2 separate regions of the Homo sapiens genome follow, and region 2 is linked to region 1. The links come from fine-mapping of genetic effects on gene expression. A gene starts in region 1. The other region holds a variant in brackets. All regions are shown on one strand. Distances are between the middles of the regions. Region 1 holds the start of ERICH1 (glutamate rich 1). Region 2 overlaps ERICH1 (glutamate rich 1).

Evidence for each region.
Region 2: its variant is fine-mapped to the expression of ERICH1 in cerebellum (GTEx, PIP above 0.99).

What each region holds. Positions count from the first base shown.
Region 1 is chr8:728,440-733,439 of GRCh38, forward strand. ERICH1 (glutamate rich 1) reads right to left here and starts at 2,785. Exons shown (of 6, transcript NM_207332.3): 1 at 2,701-2,785. The coding sequence starts at 2,722. RefSeq lists enhancers at 1-207, 268-772.
Region 2 is chr8:682,346-687,869 of GRCh38, forward strand. All of the region lies in intron 3 of ERICH1 (glutamate rich 1), which reads right to left. Among named protein-coding and RNA genes, the nearest start is that of ERICH1, 46 kb to the right of the region's middle. RefSeq lists an enhancer at 5,334-5,524. The variant T/C (reference allele first, on the strand shown) is at 3,068.

The DNA of each region.
Region 1 (5,000 bases):
CGCAGCAGGCCCCTTCCTCGAGGAGCACGCAGTCCCTGGGAGATCTGTGACACTGGGGGCCTCCCCAGTCCACTGCAACCCCACTCCAGGCTCCCCTGACCGCTGGCTACCCTATATGCCAGAAACAGCCCGACCTGAGCTAGCACTTAATTACATGCCAGATATTCACCCAATCTCCCTGGGTAGAATGGAGGCCATAGTGCCCTTCCCCTTCCTGGGACCCTCTTCAATTAGGAGAGCAGTTCATGGTCGGAGCTGCACAGCACCTCTCAGAGGCTTGCAAAGTAGGCCCAAGAAATATCCTCCGGTGCTATACTTACACTAGCATAACATAGAGCACATTTGAGGAATTTTTACTCAAGTGGTGCTGCTTCAAAGGCAATACATTCTTCTCATTAATCCTGCAGAGTTTTGCTACACATTGTTACAGGGAAACTGTCACATTAGCAGATTATATTGCCTAGCAGAAACAATCTACTTCCAGGAAAAAAAAAATGCTTAGAATCACTGTTTAGCCTGACTGCCAACCTTTCCACCTCATGTTTCTTGGTCTGTGCCAGGGCCAGGCAGGGGAGAGTATGGGCCCCTGGATGTGTCCTCTGTCAGCAAGCACTGCCCTAAACCCAAGCACAGCCTCAAAGCACAGCAGAGCTTCACTTAGCTCGGGGAGGGAGGGATACCGTGCCTGATTCGCTGCCGCAGCCAGGGCCTGAGGGGCTCTGCCACACTCAGCAGATGCTCCGCCAACATCCGGCGGTGAATAAACGACGCCAAGTCAGTTCTGTGTGGGGTCTGCTCCAGGAGAGGCACACCTGCGTCTTGTGGCACCTGCCTCCTCTCCCACCATCAACAACAGCGCCCAACCCCCACCTGCAACCACCCCATGACCCTGAGCTGGACCTTGGGAAAACAGACATCCCTGCAAGGGGACACGCCAAGCTCCATCCCCTCCTCCTGCGGCACCTTCCCCTAACTTCACTCGTTGCAAGCCACGCAGAAGGGAAATGCTCTGAAGAAGACACACACTCCAGTTTCCTGCTCCATCAGGTCACAAATGCTGGGAAGTTTTATTCCAGCTAAATCCTCCCTTCAGTGCCTCTCAGAGCCTAAGTGCCACTCAGCCGATGGGCTCTTCAGGTGATCTTGAGGAAGACACACAGAAAACTAATATTTTCTTTCCCACCTACATTTTATAAACTTTTGGGATTTATTAATCTATCCTTCCAACCACAATGTCCTTAAACAACGTAAATTTACTTGACCATTCTGTCACATATCCAATAGGAAAAAAAGGCTGTTTCGAGGGAAGGTGATTAGTGAATGACTAAAACAATTAACAGCTTTCATTCACTTTAATTTGGTGAATGGAGAAAGGTTTTTTTTTTAAGTTGATTAGGTACATTACAGATGCTATAATAATTTCTTGCATAGAGAAGAGCATTTATTCCAGGCTTAGAAGAGTGCAAACATTTGAAGGAATGTAAGAGAAGAGTGTGTTGTGGTTTAAAACAAGGAGAAAACCTGCAGTAGCAAGAAGCCCCCCACCAAGAAGGCAGGCACAGCTTTGCAGGCAGCTGACCGTCAGGTCTGCTCCTAAGAACCTCGACACTGAATTCACAGCCTGCCAGCCCTGCTTCCAGGAGAGGGTCATGAACAAGGTATTTCTGGTGCTCATTAACATACGTGAATGTCCATTTTAGAGCCTAGCATGTGACTGCTTAAAAACTCTTAGGTCATTTTTAACCTGTGAGCTGATCAGGTGACAATTCCCTGGTCCTGAAGGAGAGGGGGAAGCCCACGTGCAGTGTGTCCCTGAAAAGGAAGACTTGAGACCATATTTTTCTCCACATTCTGCCTCACTGAGAAATTTTTTCTTTTTAAGCAATTGTTTTATAACTATAGTTTGCCATTATCTTTTCATTTCAAAGGGAAAAACATGATTATCAGTTTTAAACATAGAGAAGGAAAAAAATTCATCAGCGCCTGAATTAATCCAAGTAACACGAGATTCATGTCAAAAACCGCCACTCTTTTCATTATGATGATGATTACACGGTGAGGGTAATGAGCTGGGGTTTGCAGGAAGCAGGAGCACGCTTTATTTTCTAACACTTCCGTTCTAAGGCACGGCCAGGTTAACCAATTCTATTTATTCTCCTCCTGTCTTTGGTACTAATGCTATCACAGAATTTAATAAGCACTAGGATGCGCCCCACACCTTAGGTCCACTGAAGGTAAACACCATGACCTCCGTCTCTCAGATGAGGACACAGTGGCTCTGGGAGGTTCTGCTGTACTTTTCGGTGAGGCTGCCGGAGCCGGCTGCAGCCCCACCCCGGAGCCCTGGGCTAGGACCCCTCTGAAGAGCTGAGCGGCTCCTACTCACTCACCAACAGGGGCTCTGCTAAGAACACGAATCCCTGGCTGGGCTCGCCTCCGCCCAGGACCCCAGACACCAGGTGGGGCCTGGCAGGGCCGGCCCGACCAGCAGCCATGCAAGCAACAACACGGGCGAGGGGTGGGCCGCGGTCCGGGGTAAGAGCGGGGGATGGGTAGGGACTGGGGTGGAGGTGGGGAGTCGGTCTGGGTTTGGGGTGGGGCCTGGAAAGGGGCCGGGGTCGGGGTCCCGAGTCAACACCGCGGTCTGAGCCGAGAGCCGGGTCTGGGGTCTGGGCAGGCCTCCGCACCGCACCCACCTACCGTGCTTCCTGTGCGCCGCCATGCGGGACCCTGCCGCGGACCTCAGACCACGGCGCGCGGTCCTGAGCTGAGCGCCGTGCCTTCCGGGTTCCGCCCTCCTGGGTCCGCCCACAACAGCAGGAATGCCCAATCCGAATACGGGACCCCGCCACGGGCGGTCAGTCAACTACATCACGGCCGTAGATTGGCTGATATCGAGTCTGTAGGCGTGTCGCGAGGCTCCAGACCCGCCTCTGGGAGCCCCGCTGTGGAGCATGCGCGGAGGGAGGGCTGCGGGGGCGGCGGTGCGGGCTCTTGGGGACCTGAGGACGCTGTGAGAGCGCTGGCGGCGACTGCTCTACGCGGTGGCGGAACTCTGGGGGCGAACGCTAGGGAGGGCGTTGTGGAGAAGAGGGGAACGGAGGGCCCCAGAGGAGAGGCGCCCACCCCCAACCCCACGGGTGCACCTGCGGATCCCCAGTCCCCGCTTCGCCCCCAGGCACCCGCCGGACACAGGGAATGGCCAGGGCAGTGCCCCCGGCCCCAAGGCACCTGCAGGATACAGGGAGTGGCTAGGGCGGTGTCCCCGGTCCCCGGGCACCTGCGAGACACGGATAGTGGCCCTGGCTGTGACCCCAGCCCCCAGGCACCTGGAGGATATAGGGAGTGGCCAGGGCGGTGACCCCTAGCCCCTAGGCACCTGCTGGATACAAGGAGTGGGCAGGGCGGTGTCCCCGGCCCCCAGGCACCTGCAGGATACAAGGAATGGCCAGGGCGGTGTCCCTGGCCCCCAGGCACCTACAGGATACAGGGAATGGCCAGCCGGTCCCCAGACACCTGCTGGACACATGAGTGGCCAGGGCGGTGACCCCAACCCCCAGGCACCTGCTGGACACAGGGCATGGCCAGGGCGGTGTCCCTGGCCCCCAGGCACCTGTGGGACACAGGGAGTGGTCAGGGCAGCGGCCCCCACGTCACCCCGGCTTGCCAGACCCCTTCTTGTCTCCCTGTCCAGCTCCAAGGGCCTCTGCCCTCCCGCTCCACCCCCTCAGGACCCTCCTCCTTGAATTCGTTTCTTCCAAAACATTTCCCAGGTGTGTGCCAGGCGCTGTTCCTCATGTGGGCTGTCTCAGGAGAGGAACCCACGGAGATGGGTGTTTTGGAGGAAAATGAAGCTGGTAGGGCCTAACTGTAGAGTGATGGGCGCGGGCTTGAGGTAGGTGAGGGAGCAAGACTGGGGGTGCCCAGGGAAAGAGAGCCCACAGGAGGGAAACGATGTCCCAGGAGAACGGCTGCCCTGTTTGAGTTTGGGGACCAGAAGCAAGGGCAGGATAAGGGGAGCTCAGATCAGGAGGAAAGGAGACCCAGACCCAGGCAGGGTCTGCAGGGAGCCTGATAACTTTGCATGTTCCAAGAAGCAGGGTGGAAAGTTGTTACACGATGTAGAGCAAAGGGGTGAAATGATCTGATGCATTTTCTTTCTTTTTGGGGTAGACAGGGTCTCACTCTGGCCCAGGCTGGAGTGCAGTGGTGCCATCACAGCTCACTACAGCCTCCAGCTCCTGGCCTCCAGCAATCCTCCCACCTCAGCCTCCCAATGTGTGGGATTACATGCATGAGCCACTGTGCATGGCCTGATGTACATTTTAAAGAAGTCATTTAGCGTTGTGATGACTAGAGTTGCATGGAAGGAAGTGTGGAGATTTCATCTGCTGCAATAAGAGATGCTGACAGCTCACATCCAAGTGGTGGCACTGGAGGTTCTGGGTGGGGGGGCTAGTTGGATTGTGGACATGTTTTAAGGTAAAGCCAAAGAGATTTTCCGATTGATCAAACTGGGCTGTGACAGAAAAGGAGAAATGTAGAATGGCTGTAAATTTTTCGTTTGGAAACTGGAAGGCTGGAGTTGCACTGAGGAGGTGGAGAGCCTTCTGGGGATCTTCGTTTGGTGGTAGTGTGCAGTTTTAGACAGGTCAAGTTTGAGGTGCTCATAAGATGAGTAAGCATATGAGGTCATGAAGGGAGCAGGCGTGAACTTTAGAAAGTGGTCCAAGGAATAAGCCCCGAGGGGCTCTGGCCTTTGAGAGGTGGGGAGATGAGGGGGCCCAAGCTGTGGTACATGAAGGGTGGCCAGGGAGAAAAGGAAGGTCCTGAAGCCAAGTCAAAGAACGAACCACTGGTCTCCAATGATGTGGATGAAGCAAGAGGAGGACCAGTGATGTACGGTTGCATTTGTAAAGGGCAGAGGCCATCAGGGATCTTGGTTACAGGAATTTTGTTGAAGTGGTAGAAGCAGAAACTTGATGGAAATTCATAGAATT
Region 2 (5,524 bases), 46 kb before region 1:
GAAAACAACAGAGGCTTCATCCAAACAGCTCTGAGGCCCTGAGCATGTGCTCTATGCTCTGGCGTCCTGGTGGCTCTGACACGGGCCCTTTTACCCTGTTGCACTGTGACTTCTCCACTCATGCTGCACCCTCCATATGACTTTTCAGAACCACTCCAGAGACTCCAGAATGTCCACATCTCCAGGGCATGTGGGAGGTCTACGCCCTTCACACCCAGCAGCTGAAAGCGATGTGAGGGAACCAGAGGCCGGGCTATTTATAATTGGAGCAGTGCGCTTTGAAAAGCTGCCATCCCCAAAACACACCTTTCAGACACACTAACTTTAAAAGGAGTCACAATGTGTCAAAACTCTCTCTGCTACTATTTGACACCTACATTCTGATGAACTGCTGGAGTAGAAATAGTTAGATAACAAAAATAACCAGTCTTCAGATTCTAATTCTCACAGCTGCACCTTCTTACGTGAAAGTAGGCTAGGCATTTTAAAGGGAATATGAACTTTATTCTAGATTCAAAGCTAGGCTACAAATTGCATCTGATAATTACCCTCAAGCTACCAATGTCCTCTAGGTGCTAAATAAAAAGTAGTAAACTTCTTATCAAGTTGATCTAAACCCTACCTGTGAAAGCAGATCTTTAAAATGTAGTAACATGAAAAGCTTCCAGTTGCTGAGTGTGTTGTTTGCCTAAAATCCAGGAAAATATTTTGTAATAACACCATAGATTGTACTCATTTAGCCAAGGAAACACTGGAGTCTCACAGACGCGGACACTCCGGCCTGCTGAGAAGCATGTCCTGCCCCGGGCAGGGTGGTTTGAGACCCCTGGAGATTCAGGGATGGACAAGCGGTGGCTGTGGCTGGCGTGGACCATGGCAGTTGCTTGCCATGTAGAAGACCTGCCACAGAGAGAGGAATTCATGTTCGGTTTGGCCTTTGAGGATAAAATTCAGACCCAGCAGACAGGGCTTCAGGGAATAAAGGTAGCTCACATGGCTCCTGGGACAGAGACTTCTCCCCAGGGCCTCAGCCACCAAGGACTGCCTGTGAGACGGGGAGCACCCCTCCAGGGTCAGCCGTGAGGGTCAGCAGGTGCCTGAACACCCTCGGAATAAAGAGGACTTGAAGAGTTCCCTGTCACTTTAAAAAAATGGATTCTCGCTCTCTCTCTCTTAATAGATCTGAATCTGGAGCAGTAATTTCCAAAGACAACAAGGGAGGCACAGCCTTGGAGCTGGAAATGTGGCCTCCTCCCCCGGCTCCATGCCAGCTGCAGGACATCATTTAGCTTTTGATTCCAAATGGTACTGAAAGACCATACGGGACCTCAACGTTATAAAAAACTGAGTTGGGCTAAAACACAACAATCTAGATGCTAAAGTTTTGTGATTTTGAATTTGGATGCCGGGCGGTGATCAGGAACCACCAAAGGAAAGGTTGGTTTTCCTCTGGATGTGATCTGCCGCTAAGCTAAACGTCTGCCTTCTGAATACTTACTAAACATGTGGCCAAATACACATTATTTCATAATCTTCAACAAGATTAGTTCCTGAATTCTTCCCTGAGACAGACTTTGATACCGAATTAATGTCCAAATTTTCTAGATTAGTTTTGAATAGGCTTGAATTATACATACTCAAGAAATTGTTCTTATGTTTCATGTTTACATGTTTGAGTCTTAAAAACTGACTTAGTGGAAAAGTAGTTAGTGTCTCACCATAAAACAGCTTGATAGATACTTTTAAAAACAATTCACATTTAGTCATTTTCTATAACTTTCCATAAAATGGCCAACAAAATGATAAAAATTTTATAAGCAATAAAAGTCTTAAAATAGGGCAATAAAGTGCTAAATTCCCTTAAATAAAACTGTCAAAACCATGAGGCAAGTCATTAAGTTAAAATTAGATGCAGGACAATTTTTTTAATTTAAAGAATAGGAAAGTTAAGAAAGTAATTAAAACAGTACAAATGAAGAAAAGCCATTGAATTATTCAATAAATATAAAGCCACAGTAAATAAAAAATTTAAATAGTAAATTTAAATAGAGTAAATGTATCCACAAAAAAATGTTAAAATGAGGTTATATTTGTGTGAGGCTCTGAAACTGTGAAGTGTTTTGTAAATATTCTTCATTGACTTGGACTCGTGACTTTTTGAGTTGAAAACTTAACTAAAACGCTCATTTACTTCACGGGTTTTCAGTGGTACCACAGAGAAGAGGGGGGCTCTGAAGCCTGCAGCTTAATTCCAATTTCTGCCAAGACATCTGTTTACCTCCTGGGGATATCGGGGGAACCAGCCCCCAATATTTCAACATAGGTTCTTTTCTATTTTCCCTAAGCATCGGCCAGTCTGAGAAATAAAGGGAAAGAGTACAAAAGAGAGAAATTTTAAAGCTGGGTGTCCGGGGGAGACATCACATGTCAGCAGGTTCCGTGATGCCCCCTGAGCCCCAAAACCAGCAAGTTTTTATTAGCGATTTTCAAAGGGGAGGGAGTGTACAAATACGGTATGGGTCACAGAGATCACATGCTTCACGGGCAATAAAATATCACAAGGCAAATGAGCAGGGCAAGGTCACAAGGCCAGGGCGAAACTAGAATTGCTGATGAAGTTTCATGTTCCACTGTGCATACATTGTCATTGATAACAGGGTTCAAGAGCAGAGAACCGGTCTGACTAGAATTCACCAGGCTGGAATCTCCTAATCCTAGCAAGCCTGGGGGCGCTGCAGGAGACCAGGGCGTGTTTCATCCCTATCTACAACTGCATAAGGCAGACACCCCCAGAGCGGCCATTTTAGAGATCCCCCTCCGTCCCCCCAGGAATGCATTCTTTTTCCAGGGCTCTTAATTATTAATATTCCTTACTGGGGAAATAATTCAGCGATATTTCTCTTACCCGTTTTCGGCAATAAGAGAAATACGGCTGTGTCCTGCCCGGCTCCCAGGCAGTCAGACCTAATGGTAATCTCCCTTGTTCCCTGAACATCGCTGTTATCCTGTTCTTTTGTCAAGATGCCCAGATTTCATATTGTTCAAACACACATGCTTTACGAACAAT[T/C]TGTGCAGTTAACGCAACCATCACAGGGTCCTGAGGCAACATACATTCTCAGTTTAAGAAGATGATGGGATTAAGAGATTAAAGACATGCATAGGAAATTATAAGAGTATTGATTGGGGAAGTGATACATGTCCATGAAATCTTCACAATTTATGTTCAGAGATTGCAATAAAGACAGGCATAAGAAATTATAAAAGTATTAATTTGGAGAACTAACAAATGTCCATGAAATCTTCACAATTTATGTTCTCTGTCACGCCTTCAGCCGGTCCCTCCGTTCGGGGTCCCTGACTTCCTGCAATAGGGGCATATTTTAGCATCTTTTTCCGAGGCCTTGTCTGGCATTTCAAGAGTCTTTCTTCATTATTACGGTAGGGACTTTCAGCCATCTTTCTATTCCTGAGAGTCTCTTCAGCTTTGGGCAATTCATGTATTATTTTTTCAATAACTGACTGGGCACAGTGGCTCAGGCCTGTAATTCCAGCAATTTGGGAGGCCAAGGCAAGCAGATCACTTGACCCCAGCGGTTCGAGACCAGCCTGGCCAACATGGTGAAACCCCGTCTCTACTAAAAAATACCAAAAAAAAAAAAAAAAAAATAGCTTGGTGTAGTGGTGCGCACCTGTGGTCCCAGCTTCTCGGGAGGCTGAGGCAGGAGGGCGGCTTAAACCCAGAAGGCAGAGGGTGCAGTGAGATTGCGCCACTGCACTCCAGCTGGGATGACAGAGCGAGACTCCATCTCAAAATCATCATCATCATCATCATCTTCTACCTTTTTTTCTCAGATACTCTTTAACTTCAATTAAACAAATATTAATATCTAGTAAAATATTCATAAATCACTCTATTTTTGTAACACATTCACTTCAAGCTAAAAGCAGTGTAAGGATACACCACTATCTAGACATTTCTCTAATCCAAATTGCTTAGGAATATGTGCCAACAATAGCTTGGAAATCGAGTAACTATGTTTTACGAAAATAAATGGCAATAAGAACAAATGCATTCTTTTCTTTTGTTTCTTCCTAGGCAAGCTAAAAAAAAAAAAAAAAACAAAAACAAAAACCATGTAGATCCCACAGGTGAGTTATTTCAAAGTTCATGCCTGACACCCGGCACCCACAGTCTTTAATCAAACAGCCAATGCTATTCTCATTGGCTTCATTAAGTCCGGGAAGAATCCAGGAGATGCCAAAGACACAAAAAACATGACCATACACAGTGCCAACCTTTTAGAAACCATCACAGCCTTTTCTGATGGCCCAGGATGCATGAGACCTCCAAGTCCAGGCTCTCATCCCACTTGTGGGTAGGTAAAGGCAGCTGAGCAACAGGTCTCTCGCAGGACACTCAGAGAGAGAGAGAGAGAGCGCGCACAGCAGGGCGCCCCTCCCCTCCTCTAGGACCAGGCGAGCTTGGACACAGCTGAATGTGTGAACTCTCATATCAATAAATCAGCGTGACAAGAATGAAACACTGCTAGCTCTGACTCTGTCAGGCCCTTGAGAGGGTGAGATGCGAGGAATGCGGAGCGGGGGGCAGCCCCATCACCCACCCACGAGCCACTCTGGAAAGGCTAAGAGAAGTCACGCTAGGACTCCTTCAGGAAAGGCAAAAGGCAGAGAGAGCCACGATTCTGTCAAAACAGAGCATGTACGGATGTTTAACTCAAACGGAATCCACATTATAACTGTGCATTTACTGCATGCTTCCAGAAGCCGTGAAGTTAGTAACTATTTCAACTGGTGCTTGCTGCTAGAATCACCATCACAACAGCTCTCCACAGAAATGACTTATGTTCATGACTCTGTAGCTGGATCTGAGCACAGAATCTGAGTCAATGCCTCACACCGCTTGTGATTAGGAACCGGGGAAACACTAACACTTGCCTTACGGGCTGTTTTTATACATAATCATTCAACGCAGTTCACCAAATATTGACTTAAGACTTAATTCCACCAGGCGCCAGGATAAGGCTCCTCGGGGAATAAAAAGCCGGCAACGCTCACGTTTGCACAAGCTTTGCAATAAGCCCAGACGGTCTGGCACAACAAACGCTAAGCGTGTGGGTCCAGACTGTCACCCCATGGGCAGAGAAGGGGCCCGCTAACACCACGCGCTGAGGGGGCGCAGGGGAGAGGCGGGAACCCGTGGAGGGAGGCAGCGGCGCAGGGAGCAGGACTGGAGGGAGGCGGGTCCCTGTGGAGCGCAGCAGGAGGAAGGCAGCGCGCGGGGAGCGCCCGGGCGGCCCAGGCGAGGCAGGACGCAGCGCTGACCGGACCCAGGGCTGAAGTCGGCAGAACTGCGGCCAGTGCCCGCCGCGCCCGGGGGAGCGCGCCAGGCCCGCGGGGCCCTAGCCGAGGCCGTAGTAGGTGGAATACGGGGCAGCCACGGAGGAATCGGGGGCGAGGCGCGGAGAGGCCCCGGATGCAGCGGTCCCGCCCCGAGAACGGAGCG